2 separate regions of the Homo sapiens genome follow, and region 2 is linked to region 1. Evidence: fine-mapped expression QTL. A gene starts in region 1. The other region holds a variant in brackets. All regions are shown on one strand. Distances are between the middles of the regions. Region 1 holds the start of RECQL (RecQ like helicase). Region 2 holds the start of PYROXD1 (pyridine nucleotide-disulphide oxidoreductase domain 1).

The links.
Region 2: its variant is fine-mapped to the expression of RECQL in testis (GTEx, PIP 0.95).

Annotation. Positions count from the first base shown.
Region 1 is chr12:21,497,678-21,509,148 of GRCh38, reverse strand. RECQL (RecQ like helicase) reads left to right here and starts at 7,514. Exons shown (of 15, transcript NM_002907.4): 1 at 7,514-7,979; 2 at 9,534-9,594. The coding sequence starts at 9,579. GOLT1B (golgi transport 1B) reads right to left here and starts at 7,360. Exons shown (of 5, transcript NM_016072.5): 1 at 7,201-7,360; 2 at 2,173-2,264; 3 at 588-766. The coding sequence starts at 7,225. RefSeq lists enhancers at 6,012-6,061, 6,295-7,002, 7,003-7,710, 7,661-7,720, 7,861-8,050 and 2 more.
Region 2 is chr12:21,428,569-21,440,353 of GRCh38, reverse strand. PYROXD1 (pyridine nucleotide-disulphide oxidoreductase domain 1) reads right to left here and starts at 2,699. Exons shown (of 12, transcript NM_024854.5): 1 at 2,540-2,699. The coding sequence starts at 2,623. RefSeq lists enhancers at 2,551-2,740, 2,791-2,870. The variant G/A (reference allele first, on the strand shown) is at 3,285.

The DNA.
Region 1 (11,471 bases):
GGGATTACAGGTGTGAGCCACCGCACCTGGCCAAAGGTATTTTCATATAGATATATACACATACTATTGTTTATCTGCTAACTGGCATTTACAAAATATTACCTGCTCAAAATCTCCCATAGTAGTGTATTTGGTAAACAATCTTCTAATACGTATATGTGCTAAATAAATTTCCATCAAGTAGCAGTAGCTATGAAGTATAAGATTCTACACACCAAAATGCTGGATCTATCTATCTATCTATCTATCTATCTATCTACCTACCTACCTACCGATTGATCGATCGACCGACCTACCTACCACTATTTAGTTGATACAAATATCCAACATAAAGATGGTGCCTTAAAATGCCAATAAAATAAACTTTATTGTGCTGACAAAACAAGATAATTTATACCATTAGGCAATCATTCACATGTGATAAAACATTTTTATAGTTGCTTCATCTAAATCTATAAGATTCAACCTAAATAAAATTCCATTTAAGGAAATGATCATCATCTTACTCCAACTGATGCAAATATCTGAGTTTTTGTACTAACTATCTGACACACTGATTTACTGAAAGAGACAATAATATGCCTTACCTGAACAAGAGAAAAAATCCATAAATTTCGAAGATCATGCCTATCAAAGGCCAACCAATAAGGACTACAAATACACCACCCAGAAAAAAACCTGTAGCTTTCATTTTATGTTTTTGGAAGAAGAATCTGAATGTTCTTTCTAAACCAATTACAAAAGCCAAGCCGGCTACAAATAAAACCTAAAAGAGAAAGAAAATACAACACGGAAAAGGTAATTAAACACAATGCATAAATTTTAAACGTAAAGTCAAAGCTAAATATAAAAAAAGAAGCACATTTGTTTGGCTTTTAATGTGGGCAACTGGCCAGACAGAACTGTAATGTACAACCAAGCAGCAGAACCAAGGAGTGGGTTATGCATTTTAAAGTTGTAGCTTTGTTCCACTTGTCTCATTCCTCTTCTATCTTGATTAAATGGAGAAAAAGAGAAACAAAGAAAGATTAGACGTTACCAAGGGGCATCTGTGTCTGCAGTAGTTTTCCTAGTTTTAGCTGGATGAGGAAGGCTTAGTCAAGCAGATGAGTTGGCAAGGCATAAAGAGGAAAGCTGCCCATAAATATGTCACCCAAGGGTATTCCTCTTGGTTCTGAAATATTCATCATAGGCTACAGGAGTTTCTATGGATGGGAGAAATATTGACATGGCTAAGTTGATAGCAGAAGAAACAACGTGAAGCCAAGAAGATTCTAGTTTTATAAATTCTAGAATATCTGGTGGCAGCAGAAATAAAAATACAACCATGTGTTTTCAAATATTTTGAATGTATTCTGTGGACAAGAAATGGTGATGGATTAAGAGCTTGCTTTCCCCAGGTTTTCTTTCCAAATACTTGCCCTCCCCATTAACATTCTTTAGTGAAAAATATTTCGCACAAATACATATTAAGCCTAATGGTTAAGCTTCATATTCTAGGATACTAATGCTATTATCATTTATTAAGACATCAATTTTGAACAATTTTGCTATTCTTTATCTTTTCCCATTTCCAGTTAAAAGCCCAAATATATATGTGTGTGTGTATATATATATATACACACACACACACATACAGTGTCTTCACTACCTTAGAAGGGTTATTATTTATTTCTGGATCATAACCTCCACACATGAATAGCATAGTACACATTCCAAATAAACAACATAGATCCCTTTCTAAGCAAGTCAACCATTAACATAGAAATATATATTTTTAAAAAGGTTAAAAAAATCTATCTTATGCAGCTGAATCAAATGTGAAGTCTTGGATGTTTAAAGTAAAAATACTTTAGTGATTTATCAAGACATGAAACTATCAAGTCATCTATTTTGAACTCCTATTTAGAGGCAGCCTTCATTTAATCTATTGTAAATCTCATGACAAACACTTAACAGAGTAGTTATGGAATTAGAAAACCTCATTAAGTGTTTACCTTTTATTTAAACAGAAAGCTGACAGGTTTCATTCCTGATGGAAATAGAGAATGTAACAGGAATTACTTATGAGTAATAGTGAATTATTTTCCCCAAATTTAATAGCAGATAATAATTCATTCGTAGTTAAAATTTCCTTATAAATTTAGTTAAAATATATATTTAAAAACTCACATTTCCAATAGCCAGTAGTGCTTTGTCAAAAAAGAGAATCATTCCAAAGAACAGGAAAAACACTCCAAATCCTGTTAATCCCATTCCAATTTCTGCAATATAAGGTATATGGTTAAGGGTAGAGAAAAATTAAAGTCACATTAACATCCCTGTAAACTAAGAAAATTTTCCAGTTTTCCTTTCATAGGTATAAGAAAACAGGTACCCAACATTGCAGGTTAACTTCATAATGACATTTATTTAGCTCTTATAACAAATTAATTATCAGCAAATTATTTCAAAATTTAAAACATGAATGAAAATTTCTAAGCCTTATATGGGAGATAGCATTTCTCAGACATAGCTATAATAAAAAAGATAAATCGGGATTCTAAACCTTTGGTTTTAATATGTAATTTGTTTTTTTCCTCCTGAAAAGCTCTCTCGCATCAGACATAAATGTATAGGTTTCCTTAATTACTTATCTCCTTTCACATTCTATAATTATTATTTAAATGCACAATATCTGTAGTTCTTTCTTCCTCTTAAAATTGATTCCTTCTTTACTGCATTAGAAATGTTATGGTAGGTCCGCACAATCAATATCCTTTATCCAATTATATACTGCTTGTCACAATGGCAACAAGAAATATTTCGAAAATCATGGTACCAGTATTCTCAAAACCAAATTTTCAGAAGGTCAGGCATCACTTTTAATTTCTTGATTACTTATTATGGACTTATCTACAAATTTACCTAAACTATAAATCTACTTAAATATTTGGTCTAGAGTCCTAAAATCACCTCTCCGAAGTTTCAAAGAATACTGTTTTACCTAATATTAATATTCTAGGTTTTTCATGTTTCATTAGTTTCATTAAAAAACAAAGAATTGTTGATCAACTGCCAGATGCAAGGAACTGTTCCAGGTACTGAATATACAGTGGTAGACGAGGTGTAAGCTTTAAAGTCTATGTTTATCTTGTATATAAAATTAATACTTTTATTGACTGTGCATTCTCTAGGTCTTATTTTTTTAGTATGAAAAGTCTTAACTTCTAAGGTGACAGATGTACTCTTCTATTAATGTTATAAAGCACAATTCACTAAGTTACCTCCTTGATCATTTTAGTTTTGATTCTAGAAAATAGCCATTAATCCGTAGTTTAGTTAGAAGCACAATCTGCATACAGATGAGTCAGAGTAGAAGCCACCGTATTTTTAGAAGCACAATTTAAAATACCCTATCACTGATTTCTGATCTATTGCTTAACTTTTTTGCCTCAGCTCCAGAAAGCTAAAATCTAGGTCACAGCTACTTAAAAAACTCTTAAGTCATATAAAATGTTCTGATAACTTGAAAACTTTTATCAACTTTAGCTTTTTCTACATTCCCCACCTGCTCAATTTCCTGATAACTAGTGTCTTCCATTGCAGACACCTTTTGTTCCCAAAGTTAGTCTAAAATAATTCAGGTACCTGGTCTATAAATACACCAGTTAAGTGAATTCAACACACATTCCTATGAAAATTTGAGGCTGATACTTTCATGATCAAAGGCCTTAAGAGAATTTACCAAATTAACTATTTGGATAGTGGACATAATTTCATAGAGGAAAATATGGACAAAAGAGCAAGTAAAATTCTATTAAATAACTATTTAGTAGTTAGGATTAAACATCGGCAGCTTTGTTAGTTGAAGATGACTAATTTCTATCATTTCACAAATAACCTTGATGATTACATAAAAATTCTGAGATGTTTTTAGAAAGGAAGGTATATGGAAAGACACCTACTATGTACTGAGAATTTACCACGAATTAGGCCTTATGAAGTGCTTCACATACCTTATATATAACTTAATACTTCCAATACTACTGGAATGCAGGTATAATTACATCTTTTTAAAGATGGAGGAAATTGAAGTTTAGAGAGTTGACTTAAGTTGCCTAAAGCCACACTTCTAGATAAGCATTCGAACCAAGGTCTTTTGAATCCAAAGCTCATGTGCTTAACCATTAATGCCATACCTCTTCCCACAGAATTTTTATTTTTTAGGTTAAAGGTGTTTGGTTACATGAAACTCAAGGACACTGGAGTATTCTGAACTTCTGGGGGACGCATCTTTTAGGGGATTCAAGTTTAATATTAGCTTGTTATCTAACATAGCCAAGTAGAACTATTAAAAATTAACTGCGGTCAAAAAGGCCAATCTCTGAGTATGGTTTACCGTGTTATGAAGTGTTTATACAAAAATTTTATAATTTCTTTAACAAAATTGTGAGGTAAAAGGTAGCACTGGTCCTATGGTTCATATGTGCAACCATGGACCTAGAGGTAATTCAGTAACTTGTTCTTGATCATAGAAGCAGCAAAAATGTGTGTGTGGGTGCTGGTGGTATGGAGGCAGGTACAACAGTCTGTGAAGTCAGCATTCAACCAGTCTTCTCACTCCACAGACAATGGTCCTACAACTACAACATGGGAACCAAAATATTCCACTACTTTATCCAGTACAGTCCAGCGGGAGACATTGCCCAAAACATCTTTGCCACAACTGGTACTGGCAATGACATTGCCAAGTAGCTCCTGATCCACACTGGTCAAAAGTCTCAAATTGGCCTCATTGTGCCTTTTTCTCACCTCCAGGATCCCCCTTTTCCCTATCCGTATGCATTCATAAGCCCTCTGGCTATCAAAAGCCTTGCATAGAGCTGCCTTCTTCCCATCGGAATCATATCCAGTAAAACAAACTTATCTTCCTTCACTCCTCCCACATGTTTAAAAAACTGTCCACAAGTTAAAAAAAATATAAAAACAATTTAATAAAACGAATCTGTCTAACATAAGGAGCATACTGTGGAAATTGTATAAGGAAAGACACGCATAATCTAATGGCAAACACTGTTAGCATTTTGATATCTTATTCACAATTTTTTAAAAGCAGCATTGTCTCTCTTACCATACCCTTTGAAAAACAGAAGTCAAGCAAGAATTCAATTGAACATTAACTGTACTGGAGAATGCAATTATCACACTAGGCTTTTAGACAATGTGATGAAATGAAGATTTAGAGGCAGCATGCCCCTCCTCCGCCCCTCTGAATAAGTCTTGTCTTTTTTGGGGCGGTGAGGAAAGTCCTAGAATGCCTTAAAATAATCATGAATTTCCATTTATTCTACTCTGAGCAGTGCTTGGCCACTCTCTAAAAACCAAAATCCCAGAATAATCCTGACAAATCACTTGAATGATGGCCAATCCCTGCAGTTAAACACACTCACACACAAACACAATTTGAAATCCAAAATGCATTTGGTTCACTAATCGTTTTATGTTTCAATCCACTGTTTCACCTAAAACATGTGACAAGTGAACAGCAAAGAGTAAAATTTCATTGCCCTCACAAAATTTAATGAAGTGAGGAGAATGCTTCTCAGGGAGAATGCCCATAGTCCAAACCCACTCTCTTGTTTTTATAAAGCAGGCACTCATCACTATATTAAGTCTTCAAAAATATAATTTCTATGCACAGATTATTCTCAGATCTCAAATAAAGTTTATATCAAGTCTTCTTAGGTGATAGTGGGGTACAGTGCAAAAGGTTTCTGAGCCAGCACACCTGGGATCAAGTTTTGTTTCTGTCACTTTTTCTTTGACCATGCACTCAATTTCTTTTGTGCCTCATTTAACTTATGAAAGGGGCATGCTTCTGTGAGCCTTACAGGGCTCTTATAAGAATTATGCATAATGATTCACATGAAAGCACATGGTTAACTGAAAGAAAATACCTTTATATAATTGCCAGTAATTATTATTACACTAGATTCCTATCCCCTCAAGACTACACTTTTATTTTCTTTGATCAGAACAGGCCAGGCCAATGGACCAAAGTGGGCGGCAACCTTGGGGCAGGTGGCCCCAAGAGGCAGCCCCAGTCCAGCCTCAGGAGGGAAGACAGCCTGATTGGGGGGTGGCAGTGTGTGTAGGAGGCCTTAGAAGCTCTGTGAAGTTGGTCTGCCATGACTTGAATCTCCACAAGAAGACTCCACTTTAAAATAGGGCATTTTAAATAAACTTCTATTTTTCACTTCAATTCACTGTTTAAGTCTTAAAATATTGAAAATCTGAGTTAACTGGAGTGAAATGAAAGGCGTGGCAGATAAAGCAAAGTGAGACAAAAAGAGACTCTTATGAACATCAAAATATGAGGTACAGAGCTTGGGCAGACATAAATACAAAAATTATTAATATTAACAAAAAGCAGTAGGAAAGTGGAAATATTATAATGAAAGAAAAGGAAACCGATATCAATGCTAGCTTTAGAGATGAAATAGGCCTGGAGAACTCTGTGGCAGGCAGAGAGCGATGCTAAAATAATAAAACAAGCCACAAAGCACAATATACAATACTAACGAAATATATCCTTTAATGGCACACAAAGTGGCTTTTCTCTACTGCTTGAAACTTTAGCAGGTAGAAAAGTGAGAATGTTTCAAGAGACTTCTAAAAGGTTGCTTACAGTACTGGCAAAAAGCGAATATTCAAAATGCCACATTTAAGCGTAAGGACATTTTCAAAAAGAGCCTACTGTAGGTGACATTTAAAATACCGCCTCCCAAATAACCAGCCAGCCAGGGACTTGTAGAGGACCCGAAGTGTGTCATGCGCATAAACGATCCCGAGAGTGGGCCGCGGGCACCACGCAAACTTTCTCTTGTGGCAAGCCCCTAGAACAAAGCGCCCATCTCACTGGGGATGAGGAGATCAGCGCGACCCTGGAATGAGACAGACTCTGGGCTAAAGCTCCCCTCCCAACATAGGGCGTCCCACCCTGCCCCACAGACTCTTCTCCCAGGTCAGGTCCGCCAGTCCAAGTCTAGCCCCGGCATCCCGAAGGCAGCCCCTTAGGGTCCCAGCAGCCCTAGCTCTGTCTCGCAGGCCACCGCCCCCAACCCAGAGCTTCATTCATTGACCCCGGCGGAGGGGCGAGACCCAGCCGGGCGATGGGTGTGCGCGGCTCGAGGCGGGGGCCCCGGAGCAGGTGCTTACTCTGCGTGTCCGTTAAGGAGATCATGGCTGCAGTGGTGGGGACAGCGGCGACAGCACCTCGGAAAGCCCAGGGTGGGAAGCTGAGTCGGGAGAAATGAAGCCGGGAAACAGCCCAGGCGAGAGCCGCCACGTCTTCCGGAAACACGCAGCCACCCTCACTGCCGCTTTAAGAGCGCTTCCTATTGGCGAAACCTGCTTCCAATCTCAACCAATAACTCGTAATGTTGTTCGGTGACGCGCATGGTGACCACACCCCTTGACCAATTAGAGAAGGGAGTTATCTGTGATTGGCTGAACGGACCGACCCGGAAGGGTGGATGCTCTCAGCTGGCTGGCGGGAAGATTTTACTCCCGAGTAGCGGAAAGATCTGCTCGAGGCCTGGGTGCTTTGGTGTCGGAGATCCGAGAGTCGGAGATCGGAGAGTCGGACACAGGACAGTCGGACACCGGACAGTCAAACACCGGAGAGTTAGACCGGGCTTCTCGGTGGGGAGAGGCTCTGGGATAACTACTGTTACAGCTTTGAAGGGTCAAGGGTGTGCGCTTTTTGTTTCATCCTTCCCTTTCCTGCTGCAGGGCGAGGCCGGTCTGTAGCGGATCACTTCCTTTCGCCCACACATTGGCGGAGGAGAAACCGGAAAGTTAATCACTGCCCTGCTCTGAGAACTCGGGCCTTTAGGGGCACGTTCGCCTGCTGACCGGTCTTCTGATCTCCCCATTCTTTTCCATGCAGGAGGATTGGCCACCAAAGCCTGTTTATTAGCAGCTGCCATTTGTTGGTAAATACTACTGGGGATGCTTCTTCCACCCCCTGCTTCACAGTAGCGGAAGGGCGGGCGTTATTAATATTAAATTACTATTGCCTCTAAATGCAGGTGGCGGGGAGAGAGAGGATTTAGCCTATGGTATCTCAGTGGCGTTTCCTCCAACATTGATGACTGGCTGTCACCCTGTAACATTCTTCCTGTGGATGCCTAGCTTATACTGCTGAGTGACAGACCTGCTGTAGTTCAATTTCTGGATACATTTTATGTTGAGATATCTTTTGCTGTTAAATCACATCATTTTGGGAAGGAGCAGTCTTTTAACCGCATAATCAAAGGAGTCATTTAAAATCGTGGGGGAGAATTGGATATAGACTGTGTCTTTTCATAAGGGTAGAAACAGCCCCTGCTACCTTAGCAAACCTGAGCCCTCACTACATCAAGGCATTTTCCTGGGCTGTGCGGATACAAAGGTGAAGAGATTGAACCCCAGCCCTGCTAAAGGACCTTACAGTCTATGGAAGGAATGTTACATTTTCATTACGTGAAGAGATGTTTGTATAGATCAAGAATTAGAAATCCTTGGTTTACTCTCCTATTTAGCCTTCTTTTAATGGTGTGGTTATTCCACATTCTTTAGCAAGGCAAAAAAGAGTCAGCCTATCTTTCCGGCCTAGTGGTGGCTTCAGAATTCTGTGTAGAAAGGGCGTAAGGTCAGCAGTCTAAGGATAGGTGTTGCAGAAGTGACTTTTGGAGAGCATCTTAGTTTTAGAAAATGTCCATATTAGAGAGATAGAAGAGGTGTTTTTAGGATTATGGGGAATTTAAAGTTTCTACTCTCCAGCCCCATTTTCCACTTGTCCATATGCATGCTTAGGTTTTAGTCATTCATAGATACTTAGAAATCATTACAAACCATTTTCCCCTCCCCCCACCTCTAACTTAGAAAATCTAGCTTTTCTGTAGAATACCAGTTTCTCTTTTAAGATTGGGCTTATATTGTAATTCTTTAACGCAAGGGCTCAATAAAATGTTAGATGATTAATTTTATTATTTATGTTGATGTATTTTGCTTAATCTGGTACATTTGAATCTATCCAACTTATTTATAAGATTGCCATCCTCCCAGTTTTACAGGTAGGGAAAGAGGCTTGGAGGAACAGCATATGCAACTTTGCCTAACATAGTAATTTAGTCACATAGCAATTGGTGCTAGACCTGTTGAATGTTTGCTGTTTTTTGTTACATCACTTTGTATCTTGTGGATGTTTGCTGAGTGTCATTGCTACTGTATTTGTCATGTATACGTTTATGTGACTTTGGACACTTCTCTGAAATCTAGAGAGTTAGTCGTTCTGAGTGTTGTGGGTTATTAAGCTGAAATATAGAGTTTTCCATAAAAAATTAGTGTCAAAAGAACCATGTGGTTCTTATTTGAAAGGTCACTGCAATATATAATTTACTTTCTAACATTTTCCGTGCTTAGGAATGACAGATTACTGTTGAGTGAACATCATTAATAGTACTATTTTTAAAAACTTGTTGTCACTGTTGTGCTTTTATTTTTAGAAAGAAATTTGGATTATTTTAGAAACAAATTTGGAAAGAAAAAGAATGGCGTCCGTTTCAGGTTAGTAGCAATGATTACATTTTCTTCTTCCTTCTGTTCTATTTCTGTTTGTATGATATTTGAAAAAGTTTGTTTTAAAAATTCTGATTATAGAAATGATTTTTTTCAGCTTTTTTATTGAAGTAAAATACACATTACAAACTTTGCCATGCTAACCATTATTAAGTGAATAATTCATTGGCATTAAATGCATTTAGACTGTTGTGCAGTCGTCACCACTATCCATCTCCAGAGCTTTTTCATCTATCCAGACTAAAATTCTATACTCATTAATCCGTAACTTTCCATTACTTCTCTTCTCCTAATCCCTGATAGCCACTATTCTACTTTCTGTTTCTTGACTATTTTAGGTACCTCATATAAATGGAATCATATAACATTTGTCCTTTTGTGTCTAATTTTTACCTTATTTGTGTCCAAATAAAGGCAATAGCGGAATCATGCTTTTGCCTATTTCTCTTACTGCTGAGTATACACTGACCCCTTCCCCAAAAGAGCAGGTACAAATTATCTTTATTCGTCTTTGGGTGATGCTCATTTCTCTTCTTGCTGAATCATGTCCTCCTTGGTAATACTGTAATGTATCGGAGAGGGACCAAATAAAAGGAAAAACCCAAACTTGGTTTATATACAAATTTTAAAAAGCAAGAAAGACTTATAGCTATTACAGTTCTTGTTTTTCAATTGGTCATGTGATCATAGTTTGTACTTTATAACTGCCTTCTTCAACTACCCATTCTGTATTCCTTGGTTCTCAGTTGGTAATGGGTCTTTGCTTGGTGGGGACTACTTGCCTTAGTAGTTTCCTATATTTGGTTATTATAGTTTTCAATTAACTTTAATCACAAGGTAAGGGAATACTGAGAGGTGCACTAGAGGATCTTCTGCTTTCCAGACATACTCTTCCTTATCCCTATAGTGTAGTAGCTATCTGATTTCCCCTTAATAGTCAGGATCACTTACCCCAGCAAGTATAGTAATCGCCTTCTTTGCCTGTTCATTTGTTGGCATGAGGAACCCAAAGTGGCCAAGTGGCAGTCAACTTCCAGTTTAATGGAACTATTGCTTTTTCCCCTGGTACAAGCATTTCTTTCTTGGTAACCAAGACCTCTAGGCCAGCAAGAGTCCGATGTTTCAAGGATGGGAAGCAAAAATTTCACTAGCGGATCACTAAGGGTAATAGAAGAGCCACTCCCATTTCCACCGCTGATTCCCGTGAATCGTGGCAATGGGAGAAACAGCACTATTCACTGATGTATAGCATGCCATATCCTGGAGGCTACTAGTCCAGCCCTTAAAGTGCTGATACCCAGCTGGCAGCATAATTGAGTCTGCAAAATGCCACTCCATTATTTTCTCAGGCTAGCTGCTGCAGGTTGTTGGTGAACATAGTTAGACCAGTTAATATCTTGAACATTAGCCTTCTGTTGTGCTTTGTTTGCTGTAAATGAGTTCTTTGGTCAGAAGTAATTTGGTGGGGAATACGATGACAATCAGTAGGAATTCCGTGAATTCCTGGATGGTGGACATGATAGAGCACTGCAGGCAGGTATGGTAAATTCATATCCGGAGTAAGCATCTGTATCAGTGAGAACAAAGTGCTGCCTCTTTCATTATAGACGGTTCCAATGCGGTCACTTTGCCATCAAGCATCTGTCTGTCCCCACAGAGAATGGTGCCTCCATTGGAACTCAAGGTTGGTATGAGCTGTTTGCAGGTTGAGCACTTAGCTCTGGATGTAGCCAGATGGGTCTTCGTGAGTGGCAGTCCATGTTGCAGAAGGCACTTTGTTCTTGACTTCGTTGTGCAAGGACAAGTGTGGTCAATGTCCAGGTCATCTTGTCTACCTGATTAATTATGATTATACTTTGTCGAAG
Region 2 (11,785 bases), 69 kb after region 1:
GAGAGAAAAAAAATTAGGACAAATTACTTTAAGTACTGGTATATATGGTTTGGGGTTGAGAATAATGCAATTTTAATAATGTAATTAATCTAGAAAATTAAAAACCCACTGTTCCTCATCTAAAGGTCTCCATTATCCTTGGTCTTGATGGGGCAATGGTGAATAATATTAAACTCTGATACTGAGAAAATAATATTTACAGTAAACACTAACAAAGAACTCCTGAACAAGAAAAGTGATATAAAGAAATATCCTTTATTTACTTCAACTATTTTTTATACCAATTTAGAGTTATAATGCAGAGGATGAGAATAAACTATCTTCCTAATTACCAGTTAAACCAACTTCTATTTATCTTAAAATAATATTTCATTTGTCTTCAATGGGATGAAATTAAAGCAAACCCTCAATATTAAACACTTAGAATATTGGTCTAACTTTCCCCAGGTGCTCTGGCACTCCTATTCTGCCTCTTCCAGTCAGTACATATTGTGGGACGATAAAGCCATTTTAATAATTGCTTCCACAAAATTTAGAGGTATAACTTGTTAATGTTTCATTATTTTCCTTTAGCTACAACCTCGGTCTTCTTCACTCTGTACCTGAAAGCATTTTCTTATCTCAAAGTCTGGTTCCTCGACACCACCACCCTCAATAATCTGGCTTCTATTCCTACTCCATCACTAAAACAGCATGTTTGAGGGATCTATGAATCCTTAAAATCCAAGGGATTATTTATTTTTTTTTTAATGGAGATGGGATCTTGCCATGTTGCCCAGTCTGGCTTCAAACTCCTGGACTCATGCAATCCTCCCACCTTGGCCTCCCAAAGTTCTAAGATTACAAGTGTGAGCTATCGTGCCCAACACCCATGCGATTCTTCTCAGTCTCATTTTATTTGAACTTTCTATATTTGACAATATCATTACTCTCTCCATCTTTCTTTCCTCTGTATATTCTGTAATTTATATCTCTGCTGTTTCCATTGCTAGATGAGGTCCTCAAAACTTCTTTATACTACTGAAATCACCTTCGAATTGGCTCTCCAGTTTCACGTATAAACCAGCTGCCTCTGCCACAAATACATTGTAACTAATCATCTTTCAAGCCTTTTCATATGATCAAGTTACTCCACTGCTCAAAAACATTTGACTACTTGTAAATTCTTGTTAAGTTCTCAGCATGCTAAGACTCCTTATGATCTATGCTTTAAGCTTTACTGCTCCCTGATGATCCATGCTTTTCCACTGGAGATGACATTCTTTTCTTGAATACTTGGTAAACTTTCACTCATTCTTTCATAATGAGATTTTAAAAATACCTTCTTTGATTAAAAAAATTTCCTCTTCCCTAATTCACTCCCTACATACTCCACAGGCACCTCTAAGATAACCGTTGATATCTCTTGCATAGACATACAATATTGTAATATTGTCTCTTCCAGCAGGCTGTGAGTCCCCAGCATGGTATATACCATGCTGTTCATAGTTGAACACTCAGCCCTTAATACGGTGCCTGCATCATATATGTTTACTTAGTGAATAAACGGAAAATACGCATCCAACGATGGAAACACTTGAGTTTCTTCCACTATTTCTTATGACTTCAGTGATTGCTCATGTTTACTTTATATCAACAAAATAATGTAGAACTTTTTGGAATACACACATGTATCTGAATATATATGGTCTGGCTATTCAGTATAATCAAGAAAGCAAGCCCTACATGCATTTAATCCTTCGCTGATTATTTTACAAAACTTTACTAGAAATAAAGTTTCTTCTATCTTGGGAGTTCGAAGTATAGAAAACTTACATATGGGATTCTTTATTAATTAGTTAAGATGCACTAAAGACTTGGCAACTATCTGGAAACTAAACTCAATCACCTACGATAATTAACAAAGGGGGCTGAGGGCCGGGTGCTGTGGCTCAGGCCTGTAATGCCAGCACTTCGGTAGGCGGAAGCGGGCAGACTGCTTGAGCCCAGGAGTTCGAGACCAGCCTGGCCAACATGGTGAAAGCCCGTCTCTACTAAAAATACAAACATTAGCGGGGCGTGGTGGCTGGCGCCTGTAATCCCAGCTACAGGCTGACGCAACAGAAGAATCGCTTGAACCCGGGAGGCAAAGCTTGCATTAAGCCAAGATCGCACCACTGCCCTCCAGTCTGGGCGACAGAGTGAGACTCCGTCTCAAAGAAAAAGAAAAAAAAATAAAAAGAAAGGGGGCTGAATTTTTTGTCTAAATACAAAGTCCTCATGTCTGCTCTGACATTACAAGGATCTGAGCACGGATCAGCCAGCTTTGGTTTCTCGGCTATAATTTGCCTCCCACTCCTCCCTGCGCCTAAGAGAAAGCTAGTGAGGTCATCTGAGGACCACCAAGCAGTTTCTAAAATCTGGGAGCAATAAGTGCGGAAAAGGGCGCAGCAAAAAAGGAACCCGGAAGAAGAAAAAGGGAGGGGGTGGGAGGAAGGCCTCCAGTGCTATCCCCTTTGGGGTCGGGGAAAGAGGCGGAACCGCCTGAGCACCGCCCTACCTGCTCCGCACAAGTGACGCCCGCGATGCCGCCGCCGACCACCACGAACTTCCCTGCCGTCGGGGGAGGGCGCGCTGCCTCCATGCTGCCGGACTCCCAGTGGTTTACTGAATATCGCGGCGGAGCAACGGGACTCTGGACTCCAGGAGAGGAAGCAGCCGCGAGGCGGTCACTTCCGGTGCCTTACCAGATAATCCGACCTACGGGTGCTCGGGAGCTCACACTACTCATCTCGAGTACCTGCTGCCGGCTGCGTTTCGGAAGCAACGAATTGTCTCGTGGTGTTCAGAGCTTTGCGTTACTATTACTACACCTGAATGTAGTTATTCCATGAAAATTTGACAAAGAGAAAACCAAAAAATTAAAAATAAAAAAGTAAAGAAGATGGGTTGCCCAAAGAAGTTTGATAAATTACATATCTAAAGATAGACCAGTGTTCTCACGGGACAAAACATTCATATAATAAATGAATTGGTGTGAAGTTCTCATTATTTGTTTCTGCGAGAAATTAGAGGCACAGATTTTATGCTCTTATGAGTAGAAGGAGCCTTCGGGAACATCCTGACCCCACTCCTGTCATTTTTGTAGATGAAGAAACTTGAGTCTTCTGAAAACCACTTGATTGCCACCGTTCACCTAACAATCCAAGATTTTTGTTTGTGGAAGCACAAAAATTCTTCATGACAAGGCAAAACAATACTACTGAATTGTTCTCTAAAAAATCATCCTTTTCATTTACAACTTT[G/A]ACCTCAGCTAAAGTTTCCAGGAAGAATGTACAGTTGCTTTCCATTTTGTCAAAACAAATGAACATTTCTTAAATTTCCAGTCAATAGCAGCATGTGTGAGGGTTGAATGAAATATTCCCAGTCTCGGTTTTACTGTGAATTTTTTTCGTGGTCAATTGTTTTTAAGAAATTGCTAAATCATTTTTAACTGTTTTTACTATATTATTCACTATTCATATTATTTTACTATTTACTATTACCTTTGCTGTCTCATATAACTTTCCCTAGGAGTTGTTTTGTAATGGTAAGGTATTATCTCTCAAATGGTTCACTCTAAAACTGGTAATTACCCGAGTCCCTTTAATTCTTTAAACACTGAGAATAACCATTATATATTAACAGGAAAGCCTACCACGTATCTAATTACAGGCATTTACTGATACCTGTAAAAATCATTGTTCTTTGATTTACCAAGTTAAATGGTAAGCGGTTTAATAAACGTGTCTAATTCCTGTTACTAGTATAGCAACCAAACAAAGCATTCATTTCTAGGAGGAGGAAATACATTCCTTAAGCCCATTTAGATCTCATCTTGCTTCAGCTTATTTTCACATTATCTCACTCACACTGTGTTCCATTCAGGCCACACTACACTTCCAGATCCCAGGATATGCCATTTTCTTTCTGAGCATTTGCACATATCTTTTTCCCAACTACTTTTCCCTGGCTAACTCATCAACCTTTGGTTTCATCAAGCCATTGCTTCCCCTTTAAGATACTTTATCTAACATCCTCAAGACAGCTAGGTGTCCTCTCCGTGTGTTCTTATAGCACTTTGTCATCCTCTAAATTTAGACTTATCCCACTTTATTGTAAATTCTTACTGCCTGACCCCACCACCACCATAAACTGCTTACATAATCTCAGGGATTATTTTTGTCTCCCTTTGTATCTCCAATGTTTAGTAGGGAGTATGTATTCAACAAAAATGTGCTCAACGAAATAGGAAGTTGGTGGAGCATGAAACTCCCCTGAAGTCCTTCTAAAGATTTTTAGATTCATTGTCCAGGGTCAGGATCCTCTTGTATATTGTGACAGGGGTTTCCTCTTTATGGAAGTCGGAAGGAAGAATGGAGTGGAATTTAAGCTCCCAGGGGAAACGGAAGGAGATCATCGTCTGTGGGAGGGGAAGCAAAGTAGTAGGAGGCTCCTCAAATGTAAAGGGGTAATGACTCCACACTCTCCTTTTTTCTTCCCCTTGTGAAGGCTGGCTTTTTTGTCAAAGGTGATGTAGGGATAAGACCTAGCTGCCTGCCACACTGGCATGAATATCCAACTTTTAGAAATGTCTAAGGGTTAAAGAACTTTCAGTGCATCTCACCTTAATGTTGATTAAATTAGATACATATACTGGATGTAAAGTGGGTTAAAAGTAAGATGTAGGTAACTTGAAACATGTTATCCACAGGGAGGGCAGCAATAGGTACAGGTTAGGAGAAAGGGCAACTGCAAAGAAAACTGGGCACCTAGAAATAAGGGAGGCCCAATGCCAGGAAGCAGCAGAGAAGCAGAAAAGACAGAACTTCAGCTCCCCTTTAGCTCTGGTCAGCAAGCTTAGGAGTGACCTGGTGACTGTTTCTGAGGAGTCAAAGAAATACCAGTGTATTGCTAAATATTATGGTGTATGTTTATGGGTGGAAAAGAAAAGCAGGACTTGGCAAAGAAAGGTTCAGAGAAGAAGTGGAATTTATATTGAATCTCAAAGGCCCATAGCATTTGGATAGGTTCAGAAGAAGATGTGGCAAGTCATGTGGGAAATATCCCAAGAACCAAAGGCTTAGCAGCAGGAATGAGCATGGGAAATACAGGAGATGGTAAAAGGGAAGAAAGAAAGAAAAGTGGTTGGGGAGTTCAAGATTCATGTGGAAAAACTGAAGGAGATAAAGCTATCTTCTTCTATTTCTCTCCATAATGTTGTTACATCTGATTCCCATACCCACCTAATCTCTTGAAGGCCATCCCCAACTTTCAAACTACCATCAAAATCTAGTCTTCCATTCTTCTTCAAGTTGATATCAGAAATGCCTAGAATAGGAGTATTGAGGTTAATTTTCAACTGCAAAAATTGGGAATGAATAATGACATTTCATAGTTGGTGATTAATAGCTTTTGAGTCAGATGACCTAGGTTCAAATGTGGCACCAGCATTTCTTTGTTGTGTGACCATTCAGTGAGTTATTTACCTCATCTGAACCCTAGTTTCCTCATTGGCAAGACGGGTATAAGATCTACTTTGTAGAGTTGTTTTGATGCATGTGTGAGGCAACATATTTAAACTTCCTAGCATAGTGCGTGCCTCTTAGTAGGATTAATGGTTAAGTTGCCTGCCTGTGCCCTGTTGAATAGACTATGTTTCTCTGTCTAAAGGATTTTATCTATGATCATAACCTTAACAAGCCTATTATGCTTTTAACTCCCAAATGTCTATCTCTCATGCAATCTACTCTGAATCTTCAAGCCTGAAATTTCTGAAACATCTTGGATATCTTCTCATTTTTATCTTGGTTTTTGCCAATTCGCTGTAAGTACAGCCTGGATTCATCTTGCACTCGAAACCTCTTCTTTGTTTTGTTAGTTCATATAACTGATTTACTGAACAAGCTGGACTTTATAGGGAAGAAATTAAAGCAAACATTTTTATTTCTCAACGCTTTTCCTGTGAATGTATTTTTCTCCTCTAAATTCTTATTAATTTAGCTTATCTGATCATTCTCAGGTAATAAAAAGTCTGGTACTACCTATTATCAAAACTCCAGACACGCATCCAATTAAAGCCTCACCTAACTACAGGCAACGCAAATTGATTTCTTGTTGCTTTTTTGCTCCAGCTCTTCTCCTAACTAAGAGCTGATGTTTTCAGGGGCTTTAAGATTGGAGGGTGGGTAAGGAGTAAGGAGAGGAAAGAGCCTCACTGTTGTTCCTGTATGAGCATATATATGCAAACCTACCCCCAAAGGCTGAGAGAGCTGAGAGGCCAAAGAAAAACTGACAAATCCAGTTTCTCAGAAAGAGGTATTTAATAGGGACTTACACACAGAAATGATGATTCTGTTACAGTGCATCCCCACACCTGCCCTCCAGAAATTATGTAAGCTTTTAGGATAAAAGATGTACAGCTGATCATGTCTCAGACTTTCTTGCAAAACTCATGAACACTGGGGAGTCTAGATAAGAATCTTAATGAGAGAATTATCTAAGTTACAAGCTTTGTTTCTTTTGAAGGGTTATCTATGCTATGGGCATTGTTTAAGGACCTTGCTGCAGAACACCTTAGTATGCAGGAATCCAACATCAGTCATCATGGCCGTGGTGTCATTCTTGCCATACCGCAGGCTGTCTTCCTATATCTATGAATCAGTGGTGTGGTACAACTGTGAATCTGTGAGAGCTGATTGTTAAAATTTTAGGATTTGTGTGAGCTGATTGTTAACACAGCTATTGTTAAACACTAAATTGTATAAACATAATCAAATAAGTTATATTAAGACAAAGGTAATAAATATTCAAAACTTCTTATTTCCTAACTCTTTTGCTATTATCTCTACTCTTGAGGTTATTTACATCTATTGTATCTACAGGTAAAAATATAATGGTGGGCTACTATACATTTCTTCCTACTGCCTCATTCAGCGACGTCATGTTGATCTTGAAATTGGCCGTAATAGGAGTATTTACACCATGGAAAATGGCAGATTATACAAACCAGAGTTTGATTTATTTTATTGTTGATTTTTTAGAGTTAAAAAGGTGGTGGACAATAGCAAAGACATGGGATCAACCCAAATGCCCATCAATGATAGACTGGATAAAGACAATGTGGTACATATACACCATGGAATACTATGCAGCCATAAAAAGGAATCAAATTATGCCCTTTACACTGACATGGATGGAGCTGGAGGCCATTATCCTTAGCAAACTAACACAGGAACAGAAAACCAAATACCGTATGTTCTCACTTATAAGTGGGAGCTAAATGATGAGAACAGCATGGACACACAGAGGGAAACATCACACACTGGGCCTGTCTGAGGGTGGAGGTAGGAGGAGGGAGAGGATCAGGAAAAGTAATTAATGGATACTGGGCTTAATACCTGGGTGATGAAATAATCAGTACAACAAACCCCCCATGACACATGTTTACCTATGTAACAAACCTTCACATCCTGTACATGTACCCCTGAACTTAAAAGTTAAAGAAACACAAAATAGATGGAGACTCATTTAAAAAAACTGATGGAGAGAATGTTAATAATGAAATTAAAAGAGTGTCATGTCTGTTGTGGTAGATTGTAGTACACTGTGAATAGCACAAAAAAACTGAAGAAATTCTTTTTTCAGAGAGCTGCTATTCAATTTAGCAAAGAACTCACTAATATCAGACAAACAAGTGAAATTGCAACCTATTGTTCCTTTGTTTCACTTCCATCTTACTAGTTAATGTAAATAGAAAAGTCAATCAACATTCAAACTACACTCATCAATTGCTGTCATAGTTTGGGTAATACAAGCAAAAATCAATGAAAGGATTCTGTAGAATCAGCTGGCTATATGGAATTTACAATAAAGAGTATTGCATATTATTATTTGTAAAATATTTGCTATACACCTTTCAATAAAATTTATAATAAACCTATGTATATATACATACACACACACACATATATTTATACATGCAGTTTTTTCAGACAGCCAGTTGTTCAACATTTGCCGGCACAAACATTAGTTATAATCTAGCATCGCTGTTTTCATGGTGTGGCTGATTCCAAATGTTGATTCTCTGCTGGGGTGCTTTTATGGGTACATCAGAATCTCCACATCACTGGGGATCTCTCACCTACAGGTTCTGGGCCTTTCCTTCTCCAGATTCAGTCCCTTTTAAGATGAAACAGGGTCCACAATGGGCTTCTGGGAAACTCACTCATCCTTTGTCCCCACTAGACTCTGAAAGTGCACATCAAGCCAACAGAGCATCTCTCTTTTCTGCTGTCCGAATGTCTACCTAGTCACACCTCTGTGTCTTCAGTGGAATGAAGTATCAGTTTCTGCATCATTCGGACTCCAGGGGCTACCTGTAAAGCTCTCTAAATGGTTCCCTTAACGTCCTCCTCACTTGTGCTGCGGACAGGGCATTGGTGGTGGTGGGGTGAAACACTTTCCCTTCCTCTTCCCCATATGCTTCGTGAGCATGTTGGAGCAGGGAGTGAATGTGATGCACTAATGCTGGCAAAACCAATTTTATAGTCTTTTAGCACGCGTTGCCTGTGTGGTCTAGTACCTTGCGTTGAAGGCATTGGTCAACTTGACGCCTATTATACTGTTCTTAAGCTTTTGGAGCTGAATTAACCAGAAAAATCACATTTAACCCCATGATATACCATGTTTGTTTTATAAATATTAAACTTATACCATTTAGAAAACTGAATGCATTTCTTACACCATATTCCCTCAACTTCAAAGTGTAGTTTCTCAAGTCCTACCAATTCTAAAGTGTTTCCCAGTTCCTTCATTTCAGTTTTGACTGTTACTGCGCTATTTTTGGTCTTCTTCGCCCACTTAGACTATTAAAATGAGTTCCTGATTGGTCTTTGTTCCTCCATTCACTGTCTTTAAACTTATCCTCCATGCTGCCGTAAGAGTTATCTTATAAAAGGGAGATGTGGTTCCTCTGCCTTTCTACCACTTCTGCTTCTGGAACATTCCCAGTTCCCTGAATGCATCAAAAATTCTTGTCTCAGGCAGGGCTTGGTTGCTCACGCCTGTAATCCCGGGACTTTGAGAGGCTGAGGTGGACAGATCGCCTGAGCCCAGAAGTTCAAGACCAGCCTGGGCCACATGACCAAACCTCATCTCTACAAAAAATACAAAAATTAGCTGGGCATGGTGGCAAGTACCTGTGGTCCTAGCTACTCCAGAGGCTGAGGTAGAAGGATCACCTGGGACTGGGGAGGTTGAGGCTGCAGTGAGCCTTGATCGCACCACTGCTCTCCAGCCTGAGAGAAAGGGTAAAACCTTGTCTCAAAAAAAAAAAAAAAAAAAGAATTTTGGTTTCCTTCATTACAGGCTTTCTTGCTCTGCCTATAGAAATCTATGGGTCTAAGAATGGTAAGCTCAGATGCCACCCACCATTCTCAGGGAGAAATGGCCAAATCTGTAGTACTTTACTGCATTGAGCAGTGTTTCTTGTGTTAAAGTTGGTGTGTCCTTATTAGGCTTCTTTGAGAAAGGGAATGTATTTTATTCACCTTTGATTTTCTTGCTTGTGGCCCTAATCCCAGCACTTAGCACAGCAATTTAAGTAATATTTATTCAATAAATGTTTCTTAAGTCTTTATAATTAACATAGTAAGCACAATCTTATAAAGACCGAGGCTTCATAGTATGGCTGAATCTACAATTGTGAAACATGAATTTGCCTTATGAGATACTGCTGTTCCTTTCTCAATAGTTTGATATGATATTTTGAGACCAGGTTGTTCTGTTGTTCTAGGTAGATAAATGTTACAGTCACCCCACAGTATCAGGAAGGAACTCACAGTATCAGGAAGGAACCCCCATCCAAAATTTGATTTGGATGTGAAGATTAATGATCACACACACATACACACACACACACACACACACACACACACTCACCCCATGAGGGAATGAAAAGGCTTATTACTTACATAATGAGGCTTTCTGGGGAGAATAGGACAGGATTATAAGCTGATCCAAAAATAGCTTGGAGAGCAGAGAAGGGTGACAGGCCCTGTTTTTAATGAGATTAGGTGATCGAGCTGGGGTGAGAGTTCTGGCACATACAGGCCAGTCCTTGTATGGCTTGAAAATCACGTGGGCACCAAGGGAGGGGCATACTGAAACCTTCTCAGACTGCCCAGATGTGGGGCAGCAAGGGACAGGGGAGTCGTGAGGCCTGAAAGCTTCCAGCAGTCAAACATCAACAATGGAATCAGGCTCTTTATTACAATAAGAGGCTTTCCTGCTGGGTTTCCAATGCTGTTTACTCGGTTTATAAAATTTCTAAGCTCTTCACAAGCGGTACCATGGAGCTTCATATTTCAATTTAAGTTTCAAACCATATCAACAGGAAATACTCTTATTAAGTTGTAAGTACACAAATTCCAAAGCCAAATATAAAACCTTTTTTATTATCCGCACCTCGTTTCTATAACTTTTGAATCATGATGAAAACTTCTAAAAGATGTCCTTCATAGTACGAAATAGTATAATTTGCATGTACTTTTCTGTATCCTTTATAAAGAAATAGATTTATAACTTTCATGCTGTTTTTGAATAAAACATTAGTACTTATGTTTCATGGCATTCATTCATTAATTGCTATGATTTCCATATATAAAATAATTGTGACAGCAGTTGAAAGAATTATTATTTAATGATCTGAGGCTTAATTATTTTCTATTTAATACATCAGGTAACATTTTAACATCAGTTACATTGAAGATCAGGGAAATTCAGATTTTTTTTTCATAATTAAATAAAATCAGGCCAGATATGGTGGTTCACACCTGTAATTTCAACACTTTGGGAGGGAGGCTGAGACTGGTGGATCGCTTGAGTCCAGGAGTTTGAGACCAAACTCGGCAATATGGCAAAAGTTCGTCTCTATAAAAAACACAAAATTAGCCAGGCATGGTGGTGCATGCCTGTGGTCTCAGCTACTCCAGAAGCTGAGATGGGAGGATCACCTTAGCCCAGGAGGGCAAGGCTGCAGTGAGCTATGATTGTACCATTTCACTCCAGCTTAGGTGACAGAGTGAGACCCTGTCTCAAAAAAAATTAAAAAAAAAAAAAACTGTTTTCAGGCTAGTTATTATACTAAAGAAAAAGGAAGAAGCAACACTTTCTACTCCTATTTTTGTTGATTAAAATAACTTGTGATTTCTAAAAAATAAATTAAGATGCAAAGAAAGTACAGCATAATTTATTCGTAATGAGTAAAATGTTAAATTATGGTATCGAATGTGGCTAATTTATTTCAGTTGACGGACAGTACCGAAATTAAAGATTTTTTATCTCTTAATTTTACTTCTTTTAGAAAGAAAAATGAAACACATTTGTTGTTTCAAATATTATTGCAGTACACATTAATTTTTTTAAGTTTAAACTAACCCCAAACATATGTATATGAACATTTAAGTAAATTTTCCCTTTTAATTTTGAAAATATATTCAAGTTTACATGAGATTTTAAAGTTTTAGCTGTCAAAATATCTTTACTCAGTTTATTTATGCTAACAATGGTGGACATTGAGAATGCTTGACCAAAAGCAGCAAGCTACAAAGGAAAAGAAACATTCTCATTTCATCTTCAAACTTTGGAGATACAAGTCTAAAAAATTTCTGGCTTGATTCAAGTCAGGCCATTTAGTGCGTAGATTACATTTAGCAAAAGAGCAGTTAAGAAAACATATTTGATATAACAACAAAAATAGTTATTC